Regions from separate parts of the Homo sapiens genome. Here region 1 is linked to region 2. Evidence: fine-mapped expression QTL. A gene starts in region 2. The other region holds a variant in brackets. All regions are shown on one strand. Distances are between the middles of the regions. Region 1 overlaps ZC3H3 (zinc finger CCCH-type containing 3). Region 2 holds the start of GPIHBP1 (glycosylphosphatidylinositol anchored high density lipoprotein binding protein 1).

Region 1 (11,595 bases), 240 kb before region 2:
TTTTCTTCCCCCTGCCTTCCTATGGGTTACTTGAACACTTTTTAGAATTTTTATTTGATTTACTTATAGTGTTTTTCAATATAGATCTTTATTCAGTAGTCTTCCCTTCTCTGTGGGGGATACATTCCAAGATCCCTCATGGATACCTGAACCCATAGATGTCATGGAACCCAATTCCATCATTTGGAACATGTTTCTATTATCTTCCACCCACAAATCAAACGCTTTTTTAAGTCTTTTTTTTTTTTTTTTTTTTTTTTGAGACAGAGTCTCACTCTGTCGCCCAGACTGGAGTGCAGTAGTGTGATCTTGATCTTGGCTCACTGCAACCTCCGCCTCCTGGGTTCAAGCAATTCTTCTGCCTCAGCTTCCTGAGTAGCTAGGATTACAGGTGTGTACCACCACGCCTGACTAATTTTTATGTTTTTAATAGAGACGGGGTTTCACCATGTTGGCCAGGCTGGCCTTGAACTCCTGACCTCAAATGATCCACCCGCCTAGGTCTCCCAAAGTGCTGGGATCACAGGCATGAGCCATCACGCCCGGCTGCCTTTTTAAATCTTAACTAAACGTTTATCACACACTGTAGCCCTAACTTTTGCAGTTTGCAGTGTGACAGCAAAATTAACATTAATTTCTTTTTTTCTTTCTTCACAATTTCTTGGATAGAAGATTCATTCTTACTGTAGATCTCAGCAACCTCAGAATATTATATTATTATTATTATTTTGGGGAGGGGGGGCAGAGTCTCGCTCTGTCACCCAGGCTGGAGTGCAGTGCAGTGGCACAACCTCTGTCCACTGCAACCTCTGCCTTCCGGGTTCAAGCGATTCTCCTGCTTCAGCCTCCCAAGTAGCTGGGATTACAGACACGCGCCACCACGCCTGGCTAATTTTTGTATTTTTATTTTTATTATTATTTTTTTGAGATGGACTCTAGCTCTGTCACCTAGGCTGGAGTGCAGTGGTGCAATCTTGGCTCACTGCACCCTCCATCTCCTGGGTTCAAGTGATTCTCCTTTTTCAGCCTCCTGAGTAGCTGGGATTACAGGCCCCCGCCACCACACCCAGCTAATGTTTGTATTTTTAGTAGAGATGGGGTTTCACTGTGTTGGCCAGGGTGGTCTCGAACTCCTGACCCCCTGATCCACCCGTCTTGGCCTCCCAAAGTGCAGGGATTATAGGTGTAAGCCACCACGCCCAGCCTATTTTTTTTTTTCTGAAGTTGAGAACTTTGACCTTTTTACCTAAAGGAAGCATTTTACAGCTTCTCTTATCCAAATTGTTAGCATCACTACTGTTGCACTTTGGGGCCATTTTTTATGAAAATAAGGGTTACCCGGACACAAGTGCTGCAGTACCACAAGAGTCAGTGTGATGAGGGAGACAGCTACTAAGTGACTAATGTTAGGTCGTGTATACAGTGTGGAAAAAGGAATGATTCATGTCCTGGGCAGGACAGAGCATGACGGTGCAAGATTTCATCACACTGCTCAGAATAGCATGCACTTAAGCATTTATGAATTGTTGGCTGGGCGCGGTGGCTCATGCTTGTAATCCCAGCACTTTGGGAGGCCGAGGCAGGTGGATCATGAGGTCAAGAGATCGAGACCATCCTGGCTAACACGGTAAAACCCTGTCTCTACTAAAAACACACACAAAAAAAATTAACTGGGCATGGTGGCAGGCGCCTGTAGTCCCAGCTACTTAGGAGGCTGAGGCAGAAGAATGGCGTGAACCCGGGAGGCGGAGCTTGCAGTGCAGTGAGCCGAGACTGCGCCACTGCACTCCAGCCTGGGTGACAGTGAAAGACTCCATCTCAAAAAAAAAAAAAAAATTATGAATTGTTGGCCAGGCACGATGGCTCACACCTATAATCCCAGCACTTTGGAAGGCCAAGGTGGGCAGATCACCTGAGGTCAGAAGTTCAAGACCAGCCTCGTCAACATGGTGAAACCCTGTCTCTACTAAAGTTACAAAAAAAAAAAAAATTACCTGAGTGTGGTGGTAGGCACCTGTAATCCCAGCTACTTGGGAGGCTGAGGCAGGAGAATTGCTTGAACCCGGGAGATGGAGGTTGCAGTGAGCCGAGATCACACCACTGCACTCCAGCCCTGGGCAACAAGAGTGAAACTCCATCTGGGAAAAAAAAAAAAAAAAGAAAAAGTTATGAATTGTTTATTTCTGGAATTTTCCATTTAATATTTTTGGACCACAGTTGACTTCAGGTAACTGAAACTGCAGAGAGTGAAACAGTGGAAAGGGGAGGACCACTATATAGCTTTTGTAGTGCTTACCTTGGGTATTATATTATATTTGCATGACTGATCCACGTCTGCTGGTGGTGTCGTTTTGCCAGTTTGAGTGAAGTGTGGAAACCCTACCTTCCCTCATCTCCCTTAACCTCCCCTTTTATAACCATCTGGAATACTTCCTCTACAGAAGTTAGAACCACAACAGACACAGTTATAATTTTTATTTCAGTCATCAAACATAATTTTAAAAACTGGGGAAGAGATGGAAAGTCTGGTATGTTTATCCATATTTTTGCTTATCTTGTTCTTTATTCCTTCCTGTTGTGCCAAGCCTTTTTCTTTTGTTTCCTTTTTGTTTGGAGAACTTTAACCACTTTTTAGGGTAAGACTGCTGGTGACATTGTTTTTCTTCATCAGAGAATGTCTTGATTTCCCCTTTATTCCAGAAGGATAATTCACTGAATATGGGATTCTGTGTTGACAGTTCTTTCTTTTGAGCTTGAAGAATGTTATGCCTCTTCCTTATGTCCTCCATGGTGTCTAGTTAGAAATCCACTGTTGTTTGAATTTTTCCCCAGTGGGTAAAATGTGGTTTCTGTGGGGTGCTGTGACTCGTTCCTGTAATCTCAACATTTTGGGAGAACCAGGTGGGCAAACTGCTTGAGCCCAAGAGTTTGAGATTAGCCTGGTCAACATGGCAAAACCCCATCTCTTTAAAAAAAAAAACAAAAAAACAAAAATTAGTCACACATGGTGGCATGCGCCTGTGGTCCCAGCTACTCAGGTGGCTGAGTTGGGAGGATTGCTTGAGCCCTGGAGGTCGAGGCTGCAGTGATCTATGATTGTACCACTAGGCAAGAGAGTGAGACCCTGTCTCAAAAAAACAAACATAATGTAGTTTCTCTCTGGCTGCTTTGAAGATTATTTCTTTGTCTTTAACTTTCACTGTCTGACATCTGGGGTAGATGTCTTTGGTCTATCCTGTCTGACATCTGGGGTAGATGTCTTTGGTCTATCCTGTCTGAGGTTTGCTCAACTTCCTGAATCTATAGGCTTATGTGTTTTACCAAATTTGTAAAGTTTGTATTATTTCTTTGAGTTCTTTTTGCTCTGTTTCTGCATCTCCAGTTACATGAATGTTAGGTCTTTTGTTGTGGTCCCAAGGTCCCGAAGGCTCTGTTCATTTTTTAAACCTTATTTTCTTTCTGTTGTTCAGATGGGTTAATTTCTGTTATTCTGTCTTCCAGTTCTCTGTCTCATCCATTCAGCTGTTGTGCCACACACTGAGTTTTTTATTTCAGTTATTGTATTTTTTAGTTCTAAAATTTTCATTTGGTTCTACTGTATCTTCTTTTTCTCTGTTGATACTTTCTATTTCTTCTGTTTCCAGCATGTTTGTATTGCATGTAGAAGTGTCTTTGTGATGCTGTTCTGTCTTTATGAAATAATTCTGACGCCCTGTCTGTCAGCGTTGGCGCTGCCCCTCTTCACCGAGCTTGGAGCCTCCCTTGTTCTTAGTGTGAGCAGCCACTTTCTGTGGGAGCCTAGTCATGCTGGCTGTTGGGTGGAGGGGCTGCCTCCTTCTTGCCAGCTAGGAGTGGAAACCCAGCTCCCTGCACTTGGCCTCATTGACACTGTGGAGGGTGGTGTGGAAAACAGACCTTCCCTGAACCTTCCCTCCCTGCCTTGGGGGAAGGAGTTCCACAGTGCCTCTTCCACATGGCCTCCACTGACTCCGTGGGGGATGGAGAAGGGGTGAATGTCCTGGCTTTTCACCACCCCGGCAAGGAAGGGAAGGGCCTCCTGGCCAGGGTTGAGTCCAGGCTCCCTCCTCAGCCTTTGCTGATCTGGCTGGGGGTGCAGTGGTTTTGCGTGTTGGCTGGAATAGATGGCTGTTGCCCGAGACCTTCTGTCTTGCTGGGCTGCCCTTTGCCTGTGCCTCTGGGCATTTCTGGGCTGTGGCTTCCTTGACTCCAAGTCTTGGATGGGGCAGGAAGCAGCCCAAGGGCACCCAGCACCAGTCGTGCCCCGATCCCTTCCATCAGCACCTTCTCCGCAGCCAGAGGTGGCTTGGGTTTGTTACGGTGGCACTTAGCGGGAAGTACAGGGATGGTAGGTTGGTACTTTGGGTCTGTGTTCCAAGCAATGCAATGCAAGCTCCTCCTTTTTTCTTTTCTTTTCTTTTCTTTTTTTTTTTTTTTTAGGCAGAGTCTCACTTTGTCACCCAGGCTGGAGGGCAGTGGTGTGATCTCAGCTCACTGCAACCTCTGTCTCCTGGGTTCAAGCAATTCTCCCACCTCAGCCTCCCAAGTAGCTGGGATTACAGGTGTGCACCACCATGCAAGGCTAATTTTTATATTTTTAGTAGAGACAGGGTGTCACCATGTTGGCCAGGCTGGTCTTGAACTCCTGGCCTCCCAAAGTGCTGGGATTACAGGGGTGAGCCACCGTGCCCGGCCTACTTCTTTTTAATGCCAGTTTTGGCTTATTTTCCCCCAGAAGTGGATCCGTTTTACTGAGGTTTTCAACGTATGGGTGCATGTCGGTGTGTCTACAACATCCTTTGTCGCGTCTAGAGTTTTTTTCATCTGTATTTAATTTGCGTTTTCTCACTTGTTTCTGGGAACAGTCTTGCCAGGGGCATGTCTGTCTTATTGCCCTTTTCAGACAACCAGCTTTTGGTTTTGCTAGTGTTCTTTGTTGCTTGCTCCTTTTCTTTTTCATTGACTTCTGTCATTGCTCTTTATTATTTCCCTCCTGCTTTAGGTTTTC[C/T]CCGGGCTCCTGTCCTGCTTCCTGCCTTCTGCTCTGGGAGCACCTGTTCCCGTGTCTGTAGGTTTTGGGTTCTGGCTGATGTGCTTTGAGCTCTTGGCCTCCCTCTCAGGAGCCCCTCCCTGCTGTCCTTGTGGGCACCCGCAGTCCCCCACAGCAGCCCCACAGGCCTTCTCTGGTGGTTTGTTCACTGGTCAGGGTAGAAAGCATCCAGTCACTTACTGTGTTTAATATACTTGTTATTATTTTAGATTTACCAAAAAGTTGCAGACATATCACAGAGAGTTCCCATACACCCTCAGCCAGCCTCCCCTGCCAGGAGCGTCCTGCAGATCCACAGCTAGCAGTGTGATGTGCTTTGACCTGTGTCCCTGCCCAAATCTCATGTCGAATTATCATCCCCGATGTTGGAGTTGGGGCCTGGTGGGAGGTGATTGGATCATGGGGATGGTTTATAATAGTTTAGCACCATCCTCCAGTGCTATTCTTGTGATGGAATGTTCACAAGATCTGGCTGTTTAAAAGTGTGTAGCACCTCCTCCCTCTCTCGACCTCCTGCTCCAGCCCCCTCTCTCGACCTGCTCAGCCGCGTGAAGTGCCTCGCCTCCCCTTTGCCTTCTGCCACGATTGGAAGCTCCCTGAGGCCTCTCCAGAAGCAGATGCTGCCATGCTTCCTGTACAGCCTGTGAACTGTGAGCCAATTAAACCTCTTATCTTCATAAATTACCCAGTCTTGACTGGGTGCAGTGGCTCACACCTGTAATCCTAGCACTTTGGAAGGCCGAGGTGGGTGGATCACTTGAGGCCAGGAGTTCAAGATCAGCCTGGCCAACATGGCCAAACCCCATCTCTACTGAAAATAGAAGAATTAGGTGGGCACAGTGGTACATGCCTGTAATCCCAGCTACTTGGGAGGCTGAGGCATGAGAATCGGTCGAACCTGGAGGTGGAGGTTGCAGGGAGCTGAGATTGTGTGACTGCACTCCAGCCTGGGCAGCAGAGTAAGACACCGTCTCAATAAAGAAATAAATTACCCAGTCTGAGGTATTTATTTACAGCAATGCGATAATGGACTAATATAGAAAATTGGTACTGAGGAGTGAGGCATTGCTATATAGATACCTGAAAATGTGGAAACAGCTTTGGAACTGGGTAACCCACAGAGGTTGGAAGAGTGTGGAGGGCTCAGAAGAAGACAGCAAGATGAGGAGAGTTTTGAACTTTCTAGAGACTTGTTAAATTGTTGTGACCAAATGCTCAGAGTGATATGGACAGTGAAGTCCAGGCTGAGGAGGTCTCAGATGGAGATGAGGAACTTATTGGGAACTGGAGCAAAGGTTACTTTTGTTATGTGCTAGCAAAGAGGTTGGCTGCACTATGTTCCTGCCATGGGGATCTGTGGAACTTTGAACTGGAGAATGATGATTTAGGCTATCTGGTGGAAATTTCCTGGGTTTTGTTTTGTTTTGTTTTGTTTGTTTTTTTGACATGGAGTCTTGCTCCAGGCTGGAATGCAGTGGCGCAATCTCAGCTCACTGCAACCTCTGCCTCCTGGGTTCAAGCAATTCTCCTGCCTCAGCCTCCCAAGTAGCTGGGGTTACAGGCATGTACCACCACACCCAGCTAATTTTTGTATTTTGGTAGAGATGGGGTTTTAGTGGAAACATAGTTTCACCATGTTGACCAAGCTGGTCTTGAACCCCTGACCTCAGGTGAGCCACCCGTTTTGGCCTCCCAAAGTGCTGGGATTACAGGCATGAGCCACTGTACACAACCAATCTGGTGGAAGTTTCTAAGCAGCAAAGTGTTCAAGGTGTAGCCTGGCTGCTTCTGACATTCGGTGCTCATATGTGTGAGCAAAGAAATGACCTCAAGCTGGAACTTATATTTAAAAGGGAAATAGAGTTTGGAAAATTTGCAGCCTGGCCATGTAGTAGAAAAGAAAAGCCCATTTTCAGGGGAGGAATTCAAGCAGGCTATAGAAATTTGTGTGACTAAAAGGAAGGCAAGTGCTAATAACCAAGACAATGGGGAGAAAGCCTCAGAGGCATTTCAGAGACCTTCATGTCAGACCCTCCCATCACTGGCATGAGGCCTGGGAGAACTGAATGGTGTCCTGGACCTGGCCCAGAGCCCCACTGCCCTGCACAGCCCCAGGATCTGCGTCCCTGTGTCCAGCCAGTCCAGCTCCAGCTGTGGCTCAAAGGGGCCAAGGCACAGCTCTGGTCACTGCTTCAGGGGGTGCAAACCATAGTAAGCCTTGGAAGCTTCTACGTAGTGGTAAGCCTGCAGGTACTCAGAGTGCAAGAGTTGTGGTTCAGGAGCCTCTGCCTGATTTCAGAGGATACGTGGAAAAGCCTGTATGTCCAGGCAGAGGCCTACTGCAGGGGTCAAGCCCTCATAGAGAACTTCTGCTAGGGGGAAATGTGGCATTGGAGCCCCCACGCAGAGTCTCCACTGGGACACTGTTTAGTGGAGCTGTGAGAAGAGGGCCACTGTCCTCCAGACCCTGGAGTGGTAGATCCACCGACAGCTTGCACCATGCACCTGGAAAAGCTGCAGGCACTCAGTGCTGGCTCTTGAAAATAGCTGTGGGGGCTGAACCCTGCAGAGCCATGGCGGCGGAGCTGGCTGAGGACTTGGGAGCCCTCCCCTTGCATCACTGTGCCCTGGATGTGAAATGTAGAGTCAAAGGAGATGATTTTGGAGCTTTAAGATTTAATGACTGCGTTGCTGTGTTTTGAACTTGCATAAGGCCTGTACCCCTTTCTTTTGGCTGATTTCTCCCTTTTGAAATGGGAGTATTTACCCAATACCTATGCCTCCATTGTATCTTGGAAGTCACTAACTTGTTTTGATTTTATGGGTTCATAGGTAGAAAGGACTTGCCTGGTCTCTTTTTTTTTTTTTAGACAGAGTTTCAGTCTTGTTGCCCAGGCTGGAGTGCAATGGTGCTATCTTGGCTCACCGCAACCTCTGCCTCCCAGGTTCAAGCGGTTCTCCTGCCTCAGCCTCCCTAGAAGCTGGGATTACAGGCATGCCCCACCACGCCTGGCTAATTTTTTGTTTGTTTGTTTGTTTTGTTTTTTGAGACAGAGTTTCACTCTTTTTGCCCAGGCTGGAGCGCAATGGCACTCTCTCAGCTCACCGCAACCCCCCGCCTCTCGGGTTTAAGCAATTCTGCCTCAGTCTGCTGAGTAGCTAGGATTACAGGCATGCACCACCACACCTGGCTAATTTTGTATTTTTAGTAGAGACAGGGTTTCCCCATGTTGTCCAGACTGGTCTCGAACTCCTGACCTCAGGCAATCCACCCGCCTCAGCCTCCCAAAGTGGTGGGAGGCATGAGCCACGACACCCGGCCATCCCTGCCGGTTACTAATGGCTGAGCACCATCCCCCGAGTCCTGTTCTTGTGGTAGGCTTCTCATGACATCTGGTCAGTTAAAAGTCTGTAGCATCTGCCCCGCTCTCTCTCGTCCTCCTGCTCGGCCGTGTGAAGTGCCTCCCTCCCACTTCACCTTCTGCCATGATTGGAAGCTTCCTGAGGCCTCCCCAGAAGCAGATGCTGCCATGCTTCCTCTACGGCCTGTGAACTGTGAACCAGTTAAACCTCTTTTCTTTATACATTGCCCAGTCTCAGGTATGTCTTTATAGCAGTGCGAGAATGGACTCATGTACCATCTCGCTGTCAGAACTGAGACATCCACTTTGGTGTGGTGTAACTGTCAACTCCAGACCTTATTTAGATTTCCTCAGTTTTCCCTGATGCTGTTTTCTGTTCCAAGATACTACATTCCATGAAGTCACTGATTTTGGAATGCAGAGGAGCGTGAGAAAGATGGAGAGCGTGGATAGAAGTGTCTGGAACACGTCCTCCAAGGTGGCTGGTGGTGGTAGAGGGGGCAGCTTTGATTTTGGACAGTGGGAAGGAAGCTGGCAACTCTGCTGGGGACAAAGGGTGCGTCACAGCCATCAGAGGTGCTGCTGGCTGTGGGGTTAGGGCCTCACCCCCAGGAGAGAACTAAGCAGGGCTGGGTGCTGTGGTAGGGCAGGGGCCCCTCAGGCCCTGGGCTGAATCAGCACAGGTGGTGAGGGAGCTGCTGTGGTCAAGCCAGCTGGGCAAATCAGCCTGCTCTTGGCCAAGGAAGAGAGCGCCGTGGAGCCTGGCCCAGTCCCTGTGCCCTTCATGTCAGCTCCGCAAGCACAGGCCGGAAGAGTCTCCCTATGGACCATGCTCCCAGGGCCAGGCTGGCTTGGGGAAAAGGTGACCTGGTGCCTGGGAGATTCACCTGAGGCTCTCCACTGTCTTGGTGCTGATAGAAAAGGCAGACGACCAATTAGTTATCTGAAGACAGTTCTCCGGTTGCGGGCCCCAGTCCAGGCCCCAGAGGGCCCCCTGTGGGAAGCAGTGCCTCAGTGCATGGCCAGGCAGTGTGGACATTGGCTTAGCTGGAAACATGAGCCCACCCAGGCCACCTGGCCTGTCACGCTCGGCAGCTTGGACGGGCCTCTGTGCTTTCTGTGAAGGCTGTGTTCAACCTTTTTTTACTTTTTGACCATTAGAAGGATTAAAAGCTGTCTGATATTTTAAATTGGTATTTCTCTGATGTAAACTGAGGTGGAAAACCTTTTCCCATGTTTCTAAGGCCTTTGTGTCTTCGCTTCTGGAAAATCTTTTTGGTGATTTTTGGAATCTTTTTGGTGAGGGTGAGGGTGTTTTTCTTTTGGGTTGTTTGATTCTTACTGACTCAGAGGGAATTTATAAACATAAACAAACATAAAAATACATATAATGTCCTGGACTTTAATCTGTTAGTCACATGTCTTCTCTGTTTGTGGTTTATCTTTGCATTTCTTTGTGACGTGTTGAAAATCAGAAGTTCTTGATTTTAACGGACATAGTTTTATAGTTTTCTTTACATTTTGCACCCTTAGTGTCTTGAATAAGAAATTCTTCTCTACACCAGATTGTGCTCAGTTGCCTCTAAATATTTTGTTGTGTTTACCTTTCACATTGAGACTTTCATCCAGCTGGAGGTGATTTTCTTGTGTGGTGTGTGCGGTGAGGTCCAGTTTCATTTTGCCACAGCGCCTGGCCTCGAAAAGCCCATTGTTTCCAGCGGGTGTGCGGTGCAGCCCTCCCTCCTGTCGTGAGGTCTGCGTGGATGCGGGCTCTGCTTCTGGCTCTCTGTTTGTTCATTGGTCAGTTTGTCCCTGAGCCAAACCATGCTCTGAATTATTTGAGCTTCATAATAATAAAGCAAGTTCTTTCACCTTGTTCTTTTTTAGAACGAATTTCAGCTATTCTTGACCATTATTCTCCCAGAAATACATTTTAGATTTTTCTTGTCAGGTTAAAAAAAAGTTGGAATTTTGATTGGGATTGTCTTGAATCTGTAGCTCGGTTTGGTGGAATGGGCATCTGTCCCCAGAGCAGTGAGCTGCCAGCCTGTGGGGATGGCATCTGTATTTCTTCAGTTAGACCCTCCCTTTTAATGTCTTTTTTTTTTTTTAAGAGACAGAGACAGGGTGTCACTGTGTCACCCAGGCTGGAGTGCAGTGTTGTGATGATAGGTCACTGCAGCCTCCAACTCCTGGGCTCACGTAATCCTCCTGCCTCAGCCTCTCAAGCAGCAGGGATTATAGGCACATGCTATGACACCTGGCTAATTTTGTTTTTTTTTAATCTTTTGTAGAAACAGGGTCTTGCTGTGTTGCCCAGGCTGATTTCGAACTCCTGGTCTCAAGCAATCCTCCCACCCTCCCGCCCTGGCCTCCTACCTTTAATGTGTTTTAATAAGGTTCTTTATTATCTTTTTTTTTTTTTTTCTTAAGACAAAGTTTCACTGTTGTTGCCCAGGCTGGACTACAATGGTGCAGTCTGGGCTCACTGCAGCCTCCACCTCCCAGGTTCAAGCAATTCTCCTGCCTCAATCTCCTGAGTAGCTGGGATTACAGGCATGTGCCACTATGCCCAGCTAATTTTGTATTTTTAGTAGAGACAGGGTTTCTCCATTTTGGTCAGGCTGGTCTCCAACCACCGACTTAAGGTGATCCGCCTGCCTTGGCTTCCCAAAGTGTTGGGATTACAGGCATGAGCCACTGTGCCCAGCCCTTGATTAGGTTTTGTTAGATTTATTCCTAATAGTTTTATTACTATAAATAGTATATTTAAAATTTGTATTATCTCACTGTTCATTGGCGTATAGAAATATAATTTTATATAGATTTTATCTCCAGCAACTTTGCTGAACTATATTAGTAATTAGTTTATAAATTCTCTTGCATTTTTCTGTATAAACAATTATGTCATTTGCAAATAATGACTTTTTTTCTTCTTTTGAGTCCAGACAAGTTTTCTTTCTTTTTCTTGTCTTCCTGCCTTGGATAGGACCCCAATACAATATTGACTGGTGATGATAGTGGGCTTCCAAACTTTCCCCTTGACATGTGATGCTTTCTGGGAGTTATCTTTTACGAAACCCTGTATTTCAGGCTGAGGAAGTTACCTTCAATCACTAATTTGCTAAATGTTTCTTTTTAAAAAACTGTTGAATTTTATTAAATACT
Region 2 (11,595 bases):
GAGCCCTGACGTGAACTTCTGACCTCCAGAGCCACAGCATGAACTTGTGTTAAGTCACTAGGTTCGTGGTGATTTGTTATGGCAGCCCTGGGAAACTGGTACAGAGGGACATGGGTTCTTGGGCCAGGGCCCTGCCCCCTCCCTGCCCAGACCCCGCCCCCTCCCTGCCCAGCCCCCCAGCCCCCAGTCTCCCTGCTGCTGGGCTGGATGAGAAAGGGAGGTCCCTCTATGTTCACTCTTGAGACTGACAGCATGCGTTGGGCTCTGAGACGGGGCCCAGGGTGTCTTGGCTGTGACCATCCGCCCGTTGGCACCGCTGACTTGCCTGGCTCAGACTCGACTTGGCCTGGGAATCTGGCTGGCTCTTGGCTGGCATCCAGCTCCTCCCCAGCTGAGGCGTCCTGGAGCCTGGGACACCTCTGGGAAGCTGGGTGCGGTTGGCAGGAAGCCCGGGGACTGGATCCTGGATCTGTACCGCCCAGCTGTGTGACCTTGAGCTCGAGCCTCATGTCGCAGCTGCAGGCTTTCGTACCTCGGGGGGCTGTGACAGGGCCCACCGTAGACAGCTAAGCACGATACCCTCTCTTCCTGCTCAGAGCCTGAGTGGGTGCCAGGAGAAAGCCCTCTGTGAGCTGCTGGGAGTGGTGTTGGGGATGGTGTGAGGTGGTGTTGGGGTGGTGGTGGGGGTGGTGTGGGGGTGGTGTGGGGGTGGTGTTGGGGGTGGTGTTGGGGGTGGTGTTGGGGGTGGTGTTGGGGTGGTGTGGGGGTGGTGTTGGGGGTGGTGTTGGGGTGGTGTGGGGGTGGTGTTGGGGGTGGTGTGGGGGTGGTGTTGGGCCTTGTGGTGGGTGGTGGTGGGTGGTGTGGGGGCGGTGTTGGGTGGTGTGGGGGTGGTGTGGGGTGGTGTTGGGTGGTGTTGGGGGTGGTGTTGGGGGTGGTGTGGGGGGTGGAGTTGTGGGTGGTGTTGGGGCTTGTGGTGGGTGGTGGTGGGTGGTGTGGGGGTGGTGTTGGGTGGTGTTGGGGGTGGTGTTGAGGGGGTGTGGGGGTGGTGTGGGGATGGGTACTGGCTGATGGGCTTCTCTGTTCTTGTATTGGCCCCTCTCTGGCTTCTATAGCTGCGGAGACACTCACAGCTCCCGTGCCTTTGGGCAGGTCAGGTGAGAGCCCCAGGAGAGTCTGACTGGGCTTTCTGCTTCCTCAGGGGCAAGGATGAGGGACCCAGCTGCTGGCAGGGCCCAGGACCCTGGGAGAAGAGACAGGACCCCAAGGCTGGGGCAGGCCCTACAGCCAGTGGCTTCAGACTGCACGCCAGGAGGTGGTGTGGGCCGGGAGGGGTGGGGGTCTGTCCACTCAGAGCTGTGCAGGGCTTTAAGGCATCAGTTTGAAGGAAGCATTTGGCGAACTCAGGTTACGTCGCCCAGTGTTTCTAAGTCGGGTGTGGTTAACGAGGTTTCTTTGGATCATGAGGGTCTGGGGCTGGCTCAGGTGGGGCATGTGCTATGTTCACACATACAGATGGCAAGTGAAGAGTGGGGTCATGAGAAGTGTCCTGATGGCCACAGCTCCCATTTGTCGAGCACTTGCTCTCTGCCAGGCACGGGGCTGTAAGCCCTGACACGTGGTGCTCCAGCACTCTGGAGGATCCTCACTGTAGCCCACAAGGAGGGCTCTCCTAGGACTCCCGCTGGACGGAGCCAAGTGAGAGGTGAAGGGGCTTCCAGGGTCATGGAGCTGGGGAGGGCTGGGCCTTAGATTCGAAGCAGGCAGCCTGACCCCTGCACTGTGCTCCAGTGGGGCTGTAGGCGTGCGTGTTCGTGTGCACACATGTGCATGTGTCAGTGTGAAAATGCAAGTAACAGACACCCCAAATAACTAGCTTCAACACAGCAGAAATTTATTTCCCACCCAGGTAAGGGGACCCTGAGGTAGGCAGTGACTTCTGTCGGCAGCGAGCTAGGCCCCTCTCACCAGGCTGCCCTACCGTGCTCAGTGCTGCCTCATGGTGCAAAGTGGTTGCTGAGCTCCAGTCATCACTTCAGCCAGCAGAAGGAGGAAGGAGAAGGAGAAAGACGTGACCCCACCATCTAGGGCATTTGCCTTCCGACCCCCCAGCTAGGCATTGTGTGTTTTATTAATAAGGAAAAGAAGAGAACAGTTAGCGGAGGCCTCCCGCTGTCCACCAGGATGAACTTGGCAGGCCGGACAGGACTCTGGGCTTCCCAGTTAATGGAGTGTTGAACTGGTGGGGATCTAGGGGTTCTTTAAGTCTCACTCTGTACTTCTCAGAAGGGGAAACTGATACCCAAGTCAGTGGCTGAGCTGTGGCCCAGGCTCGGCCTCTGCCTGCTGTCCCAGAGCTCTGTCCTGGCACCAGCTACTGGTGAAGGCAGAGCTTGCAGCAGTCACAGCCCTGCCAGAGGACACCCTGGGGACCCCCCTGTAATGGGCCACCCACCTTCCCGGCTCTGCTACCCAGTCCTGCTTCCTCTGCAGGAAGCTGCAGGCCCATTCTGCCCCCTCCCTGGCACAGGGTAGCCTGTCTGACACCCCCAGATCCATCCATGACACCCACTAGGCTGAGGGCTTGGGGACTGGAGTCTAGAGGGCAGGCCAGGATGAGGCTGGAAAAATTCCATCTCATCTACTCCTCTCCTTTCATCAACTCCACCCCTCCACTGCTCTAGCCTGCTTTAGCCTCTGCTAGAGCAGAGACAGGTATTCCCAGCCTCAGGCGCTGTCCTAAGCCCAGCAGGTACTGACCCTAGATGGTCACCTCAAGGTGACAGGCACCCACCCAGCATCTGGCCCTTCCCCATCCAAGGCTGCAAGTTCACTTTCCAAGCCAGGGTCTCCCATAGCGGTGCTCACGCCATAGCCAGACAGGCCCCGCTGGCCCCATCCTCTTCATACTTGGTGCCTGTCCCCCCAGCCCCCCCCCGCCCCGCCCCTCCGCATGTGGCCTCACCCCAACCCACCTCCCTGTGCCCTCTCATCCTCAGCGCGCCTCTCCCACTGTCCCGCCTCCCCCAGGCCCGTCTTTCCTGGGGGCGACGACAGCCTCCCTCCAAATCCCCTTCCCTCCAGACAGCGGAGAGGCCGACCTGGGGAAGGGCAGGGTGGGCCCGTGTGACCGCTGCAGATGGAGGAATTCCCATGGCAGAAGTTAAGGGTGAGGACTGGGTGTGGGGGCCCCCAGGTGTGTGGTGGGTATCATCTCTGCCTGGCTGTGCTGATGGGGATCCCCAGCCCCCATGAGGGCTGCAGGTCCTGGGGCGTGGCAGCCGAGGTCTGGACCCAGCGCCCACGTGCGGCAGTCTTGCTGCTCACAGGTGGTGGAGAAAGGACACCAAGGACACAGCCGGGAACTGAGGAAGCAACCGGGCCGGGGGGCCTGCGCTGGCTGGATCGCCCAAGACACTCCAAATCCATTCTCCAAAGCTGGTGCAGGGGCAGGAGGGGAAGGTACCAGACAGAGTGCTGGCAGGGCCGGGGGTGAGCCGGGTGGGGGTGGGGAGGGGCCGTGGGTCAGGGTCTCCTGGCCCCCATTGCTCCAAGGCCGGCAAGGAGGTTGAGCAGGAGGGCTGCGCCCACAGTTTCGGAGCTGCCCCGGGGGCCGCCTGCCCCCTTGCCTGTTGGGTCCTGGACTCGGGAGCTTTGCCAGGGTGGGACATTGCACAGGCTGGACTGGCAGCAGGTCATGGTCACCTGGGTCCCCTCCACCGTCTTGGTGATGGGCTGGCAGCTGTCTGTGCACCACGTGGAGTGGGTGGTCAGGAGGCCTGACTCTGGGAAGGGGAGTGGGGAACAAGTGCTGAGGATGGGCGGGGTCTCTGAGGTGGCTCTGCAGGGCTCTGTTCCGGGCCCCTGGCTTTCCCGCCGCCTGGGGGTGCATGTGCTGCGGCCCCACGCCCACTTACCGGTGTTCCCGTGGGCAATGAGGGTTGTGCAGGTCTGGCCATGTGAGCAGTTCTGCGTCAGGTTGCAGCGCTCGTCCCTGGGCAGGGACTTGCAGGTGTAGCACCGCAGCAGCACTGGGGACAAGGCGGGCTCAGGCCGAGGCCGGGCCCCCCAGGGTCTCCTCCCACGTCCCTGTCCACCTCCCCGTTCTCAGCTGTGCTCCCAAAGCCTAGCCTGGTGAGCCTCCAGCACCCACTGCTCAGATGGGCGGGCGACCCCTGACTTGGTCCTGTAAGCTGTGCTGTGTGCGTGAGCCTGTGTGTTTAGGGGGCAAGGGATTGCGGGTCAGGCAGGGCGAACTTCCCATCATCACTCACGTCCTGCGACAATGCTGCCCAGGCTCCTGCCGTGGTCACAGAAACCTGGAGGTGGGTCTGACTCAGTCCTGCCTCCAGGAGCACCAGGCCTGGCAGAGGAGGGCCTCACAGGGGACACCTCGTGGGTGTGTGGGGCAGGGCTCGTGCTGAGGGCAGGCTTGGGGCTCCTGGGAGGGGGGTGGGCTGTGTGTGGTGGGGCATGCTGGGGGCCCTGGCTAGGGAGGGGCTGTGTGTGGTGGGGCACGCTGTGGTCCCTGGCTAGGGAGGGGCCGGCCCTCGGGTTGGATGCGGCGATTTGCTCTGCTTTTCTCGGGATGGGAGAGAGCAGAGGGTGGCCCACGTGTAGGGGTGTGTCAGGTGGGCAGTGAGGGTGGGCTCTTCTTAGCCCTACTCTGCTCTGCTCTAAGCGGTTCCCTGGCTCCCCAGCCCGCAGCAGCCAATCCAGCCCTCCCCTGTACAGGACCGGCCCACCCTGCTGCTCTCTCTGCCCCACAAAACTGAACCCTACCCTGGGGCCTCTGTGCTTGTGTCTCCACCCTAGGCCCCCACTGAGCCCTTCTCTGCCTGGTGAACTCCTATTTAACCTCTACATCCTGGCACCACTGACCCTCCCAGCTGGTGGCTTCTTCCCCTGTTCCCTACTCTGGAAGGCAACTGAGTGTCATGGTGAGCAGCAGTGAGGGGTGTACTGAGTGTCCCCCACTCTGCTGGAGGCAAGCTCACAGCAGGACTGTGGCCTGCTGGCTTCCATCACACAGCCCCGCCCAGAATGCTCCAGGCAGATCAGGCAGCAGGGCTCTGGGGTTGGGGCGGCCATACCTCTGCTCCTGCCACCAGGGAGCCTGTTGGTCTCCTCCTCTTCCACCTCATCCTCATCTTCCTCGTCGTAGTCATCTGGCCCGTGGTCCTCGTCCTCTTCCTCTTCCTCCTGCTGTGTCTGCCCTCTCCCTGGCCGTGCAGGGATGCTTGTAAGCCTCAGCTACCCGGGTATGGAGGACACCTGCTCTGGGCAAGCATCGTGCCCCCAACTCCTTGGCCCTCCCCAGCCATCCTCGGGCCCCAGGGTGGCTGGGGAGGGCCCCTACCCTGAACACCCTACTCACCCTACTCACTGTCCTGCAGCCTACTCACCCTACTCACTGTCCTACTACCCTACTCACCCTACTCACTGTCCTGCAGCCGAGTGTGCCCTGGCATTGTAGTTACAACAGCAGCTGCTGTGGGCTGGCCCTTTATGGTAGCCCCTCCCCGCACCCCACATAAACAGGGGCGCAGATATTTGGGGACTCTCGGGGACCCAGGCCAGCTTCCATCCATGCTGCTCTGGGCTGGGGACTCCAGCCTCATCCCCTCCTTCTTCCTAAGCCCCTGCTGGGGGTCCCTGGAGGTCCCTGTGCTCCAGGACTGCTGTTGCTGCCCCCTCACCGCAGGGTTACCCTTTGCCCCGCACCTGGCCGCCCGAACAGCAAGAGGGCAAGCAGGACAGCCCCGAGCGCCTTCATCTCGCCGGACGCTGCTGTGTCCCTGACTCTGAGTCCTCCCGCAGGGCTCTGGAGCTGCGGTAAGTGGGATGAAGGGCATTGCCGTGGGCTTCCTAGTGGCCCCCACCAGCTCCAGCCTCAAACAATGGGCCTCACACTGGTCCCCAGCTCCAGGCGCCAGGCCAGGGACTGTTGTTTCCCTCCAGGACATCTGGGGCCAGAGGGGAAGGAGAAGTCATTGTGGTTGGCCTTGGAACGTCCTGTGCACCCGTGCCACGGCAGGTGGAAGGTGGTGCTGGCCCTCGCCTGGCTTGCCGCTCAGTGCCTCAGCCCTGCAGTGCAGGGCAGGGAGCCTCGCCCCGGAATGGGCCATGCCTGACACCCCTCAACCCCATGTCTGGGCTCCATAGTCACAGGACCTTGGGGTCACAGACCCTCTATTTGCTGGTCACTGGCCAAGCATCGTCATCCTAGAGTCAGCATCACACCCAGGCCCCTTTAAGAGCATTTAAGTAAAAACACAGTCAATGCCCTCAAGCTAAGGCTGCGTGCTCACCTCCTCCTCACCCACACTCAGCAATGCACTGCTAGGCCCAAGGCCTCCCGGCTGCCCCTCACTATCACCTCGGGTCTTTGCCCCTGCTGCTCCATCTGCAGTGCTGTTCCTGCTGGTGTCCGGTGGAGAGCTTTCTGGAGCTCTTGGGGGCCCGCCCCCTCGGTCTCTTGCTGGGAAAGCCATCAGCACCCACCTGCCTTCTGGCCTTGTGTGAGAGACGGGCTGCTCTGGGAGAGGCTTGGAAAGCCCAGGTCGCTCCCTGAGGCCACCCCCTCCTCTCAAGACCCCACCCAAGCCCTTGGGGGGTGCTGATGCAGAGTGCAGAGTCGAGGCTCTGAGCTGCCCCTCTCCCAAGGGCAGCAGAGGGGTGGGGCAGCGGCAGGGGCTGGACGTCCGGAGCCAGGGTCAAGCCTGAGCGTCTCTGTGTGCCTTGGTGCTTGGGCCAGGCACTTCACCTACTGAGGCCTCAGTTTCCCCGACTGTCAATGGGTGGGGTGGGGCATTTTCTGGCCGGCCACCTGTAACAGAGGTTGAGTTGGTTCTGGAGTGAGCTACCTGGGTTTAAGACCCGGTTCCTCCTTCCCCCGGCTGTGGGTTCTGGACTAGCCCCTTGGGTTCCCCAGGCCTCAGCTCCCTCATAGGGTGAGGTGACCATCAAGGGTCAGTACCTGCTGGGCTTAGGACAGCGCCTGAGGCTGGGAATACCTGTCTCTAATGTCCCAGCCACCGAGTCAACCATCCTTCCTTAATTCACCTGAACCTGTCATTCTTTCCACTCTACCGGCACCCACCCAGCATCTAGCCCTTCCCCAGCCAAGGCTGCAAGGTCACTTGCCAAGCCAGGGTCTCCCATAGTGGTGCCCACGCCACAGCCGGACACGCCCCGCCAGCCCCAAACTCTTCATACCTGATGCCTGTCCCCCCCAGCCCCGTCCCGCCCCGCCCCGCCCCGCCCTTCCCTGCCCCTCCGCGCGTGGCCCCACCCCCACCCGCCTCCCTGCGCCCTCTCGCCCTCGGCCCGCCTCCCCCACGCCCCGCCTCCCCCACTGCCCCGCCTCCCCCACTGCCCCGCCTCCCCCACTGCCCCGCCTCCCCCCACGCCCCGCCTCCCCCACTGCCCCGCCTCCCCCACTGCCCCGCCTCCCCCCACGCCCCGCCTCCCCCACTGCCCCGCCTCTCTCACGCCCCGCCTCCCCCCACGCCCCGCTTCCCTGGTGCCCCGCCTCCCCCACACCTGTCTACCCCATGCCCCGCCTCCCCCACTGCCCCTACTTCCCGTCGCCCCGCCTCCCCATCGCCCCGCCCCCATTCGCCCCTTCTCCCCAGCGTCCCACCTCCCTGTCGACCCGCCTCTCCTGTGCCCCGCCTCCCCCGTGCACCGCCTCCCGTCATCTTCACCCCTCCTCCCCCACGCCCCGCCTCCCTGTCGCCCCTCTTCCCTGGTGCCCCGCTTTCCTGCTGCCCTACCTCCCCCGCGCCCCGCCCCGGCTACCGCTACAGGCCCTTGAATCTAGTGCTGCAGGAGCTGCTCCTAGGAAGGGCGCTACTGGGATTCTCAAGGGGCCTCCACCTGCCGCCTCCCCTCCACAGGGGCCCAGGCCCTTGCACGTTGCCTCCCTCTGGGCCCAGCTCCTCTTCAGCCCAGGTGCAAACTGCCCAGCCCAGGCAAGTGCTTATTGCGAGAATCACCTAGGGACAATCAGAGCACATTTGATTCGCAGATTGAATTAAATTTAGTGCTCGCCACTGAGAGGCTGTTCCCTCTGTCCCGCCCCGGAAAGGCTAGTGGGTCTGGTCCAGCCCCTACAGAAGGTGCCACCTGGGATGGTGCGCAGGTGTGAAAGGGGACCCGCAGTGGCAGACACCTGGTTCCCCAGCACTGCCTACAGCCGGCAGGTAGGCGTGGTGGGCTCTGTATGTGGAGCCCACCCCCTCATCCCACCCAGGCACCACGCAGCCTCCCTCAAGCCCCCAGGGCAAGGTCATGACCTCTCAGACACTCCAGGGTGAAGATATGATGCCTAAGACCTTCAGGGCAGGGCTGTGGTCCCCCAGGGCCAGGGCTAAGGTCTGGTGGTCCTGATGGCAGCTGCATGGGTCATTTTCGAGCCTGCACCTGCGCCCCTGGGCTCAACCGCCTTTCCAGGCCCAGGCTTCCTCCCTGAGCCATGCGCACACCCCAGGGCACCGTTGAAGGGCAGCCCGGCCACCCCCGCTCCCTGCCCACAGACCTCTGTGCCTTGGGGCCTGGACTTGCCTGCTCTGCTGGCTCGTGGGGCTGGCCCTTCTGACACAGCGGTTCTCTGGGCCTCCTCTCACGGTGGGGCCTGCATGACTCACGTGGCTCTTTTTGGCAGCGGCAGCCTTGGGCTCAGAGCTTGGTGCTGGTTGTGGACAGGGGATGCCTGGCCATCCACACTCCATCCTGCCTAGGTGACATGTGGGGGCGGGGCTCGGCAGGCAGGGTCCATGCTGGCATCATGCCCAGGTGGGGCCATGGGCTCTGCTGTCCTGGGGGGCTGTGTGGCCCTGTCCTGGGCCTGCGCGTCCTACTCTGTACGCCCTCCCCCGTGTTGACACCAGCTCGAGTCAGATCCAGACCTGTGCACTGCCATCTCTGGGAGGCAGCCTGCCGTGAGATTGGGTTTGGAATGAGGGAGGCGTTGGGAGGAGGGCACCTTGGGGCTGGGCCTGAGGGGTGAGCAGAGTTTTTCTATAAGGAAGGGTGGGCAAGTGTTTCTGACTGAGGGGCAAGTGTAGGGTGTCCATACCGGGAGAGTAGGGCCTTTTGGGGCAGATGCAGACTGCAGATGTGCTGGCCCTTGCAACACTTTCCCTGCTCTGAGCTCCTTCCTGCCCTCTCTGCAGCCAACCTTCTCTTGTCTCACTGAACCTGAGTCTGGCAGAGGGAGGGGCTTGTTTTTAGAGCAGAGTCCAGACTCTCCTCCCCTGGGGTTACTCTCCGCTTATTTTTATTTATTTATTTCTTTTGTTGAGACAGAGTCTCACTCTGTCGCCCAGGCTGGAGTGCAATGGCAGGATCTTGGCTCACTGTAATGTTCGCCTCCGGGGTTCCAGCGATTCTCCTGCTTCAGCTTCCTGAGTAGCTGGGATTACAGGCTCGCACCACCACGCCCAGCTAATTTTTGTATTTTTAGTAGAGACAGGGTTTCACCATGTTGGCCAGGCTGGTCTTGAACTCCTGACCTCAGGTGATCCACCCGCCTCGGCCTCCCAAAGTGCTGGGATTACAGGAGTGAGTCGCTGTGCCCGGCTCTCTCTGATTCTGATGACCCCACAGTGCCAGGCTGAGCAGGCTGCCCACCATGTGCACTGAGGTACAAGCCCTTTTTCTTTCCTGGGATCCAGCACTCAGAGGTAGCTGTGGGTGGGCGGGCCGGCCAGGGGGAGCAGCTCCCACGGGTCCTGCAGCTCCCAGGCACCCCTAGAACCCACGAGGGAAACACATCCTGGTTCCAGAAGCTCGTTCATTAACTCGTTCACGTGTGGTTCACTCAGGTACCCTCCCTGGCCTCCCAGCTCCCCTCCATGCTGCTCTGCACCTGGAACCCTCTATGCTCCATTTCCTAGTCCTTAGACACCCTCAGCCCCACCACCATAACCCTGGAGAGTCTCCTTTCCCTTGCTCTTCCAAGGGGGTCCCTCTTGTCCCCCACTTGTGAGGGTGACTGATCTCTGTCTAGCTCCGCTTAGCAGAGCTTCAGATGGTCCTTCAAGCTCCCACCCCCGCTGCCTCCTGCCACTATCCATCTTCGATTTCTAGAGGCAGGGCCCAGGCACCATCCTCTCCAGAGACCTTTCTCCACAGCGGCACTCCTGTACCCACCCCTAGCTCGGTGCCCTCGGAGGGATTCAAGGCTTGGCTTTAACATCCCCCTATGGCCGTACTGGGTCCCCCTCTTGGAAAAATGCAAGAGCAAGGAATACATTGTTCCTATCATTTATTTTATCCGTTTAGAAATCAATCTCCTTCACAGTGAGATTGTTAAAATGTTAAAAACAATGTAGCAATTTCACAATATTGAAAGAGACTAAAAATAACGATGCAGGGATACTTTGCAGCTGTATGACAGTGAAGAAGCTCTTTACATCCTGATCAGAAAAACAGGAAGCGGAGGAAGCCGAGGACTGAGTGTCCCAGCACGTTGCTTTCTGCAGGAACAGGAGAAGGCAGGATCTGCGCCTGCTGCTGTGTGTTCATATGGAGACTGCCCGCTGGGCTCGCCTTCTGTCAAGGTCCACGTTTGGCCACTGATCTGCAGGGCCATGTCTTCTGCTCAAGCCGACCCCTGGGCCCTGCCACCCAGCAGAGGCCTGCGAATGAGAGGCCTGGGGCCCTGCAGTCCCTGGAAGGCAGGAACTTGATGGCTGAGCTCAGGGTGGGATCTGTGTGTGGGTGGGTGAGCGGCAGGCACTCACCCACAGCGGCGGGGAGAGGGTGTGTGGAGGGAGAGCAGCTACCAGAGAAGCCAGAGAGGTGCAGCCCAGGGCAGGCAGGAGCCCCCCCAGGCTATGGCGTGGGCCCCCAGCCTTGGGGGTGGCACAGGGCCTCCTGGCAGCCTCTGCACATCAGGACCACGTCACTGGGATGTCCCACTCAGACTCCTGGCAGGCATGGAGGCAGAACTTCCAGTGTTTTCCACAGTGGCCCCACTGGAGGGGCAGGGGAGAGGATAGGAGGTTAGGTGGGGGAAGCAAGGAGGAGGGGAGGGAGGAGGCCACGGGAGGTGGTCTTGGGTGGGGCCTCCCTCTGCCCGCAGGTGGTGATGGGCAGCTGACCACCTGCACCAAGTGTCGAGGTGGCTCTAGTGACTATGGGGACGCAGGGCCTCCCGGGCCACCGCAATGGCTTTCTCACAGTTGGTCCTTTGGATCCAACTGGATTTGGGGTGTGAGGTGGGTGAGGAGAGGCCCCAAGCTCGAGGGCCAGGATGCAGTGAGCCCCAGGGTGGGATACCCTGATGATATCCAGCCACCTGCTGGAAATGGTACCCAACCTCAGAGCCTCAGCCTTCCAGGGAGACACAGTGGGTCCCGGGCAGCCACACTCCAGGGAGACACAGTTGGTCCCAGGCAGCCACACTCCAGGGAGACACAGTTGGTCCTGGGCAGCCGCACTCCAGAGCCAGCCTGCGATCCCCGGCAGCCGCACTCCAGAGCCAGCCTGGGGGCCCAGGACAGGAGTGTGCACATCAGCCCCTTGTACCCCCAGCCTGGGTGAGATGCTGCCCCTGTGCCACAGGACACCCCTTCTGACTGCCCACAG

What was found.
Region 1: its variant is fine-mapped to the expression of GPIHBP1 in stomach (GTEx, PIP 0.98).

The regions. Positions count from the first base shown.
Region 1 is chr8:143,444,644-143,456,238 of GRCh38, reverse strand. All of the region lies in intron 9 of ZC3H3 (zinc finger CCCH-type containing 3), which reads left to right. Among named protein-coding and RNA genes, the nearest start is that of MAFA, 20 kb to the right of the region's middle. RefSeq lists an enhancer at 6,306-6,600. The variant C/T (reference allele first, on the strand shown) is at 5,027.
Region 2 is chr8:143,207,446-143,219,040 of GRCh38, reverse strand. GPIHBP1 (glycosylphosphatidylinositol anchored high density lipoprotein binding protein 1) reads right to left here and starts at 5,823. Exons shown (of 4, transcript NM_178172.6): 1 at 5,722-5,823; 2 at 5,091-5,219; 3 at 3,915-4,028; 4 at 1,871-3,782. The coding sequence starts at 5,773. The coding sequence ends at 3,523.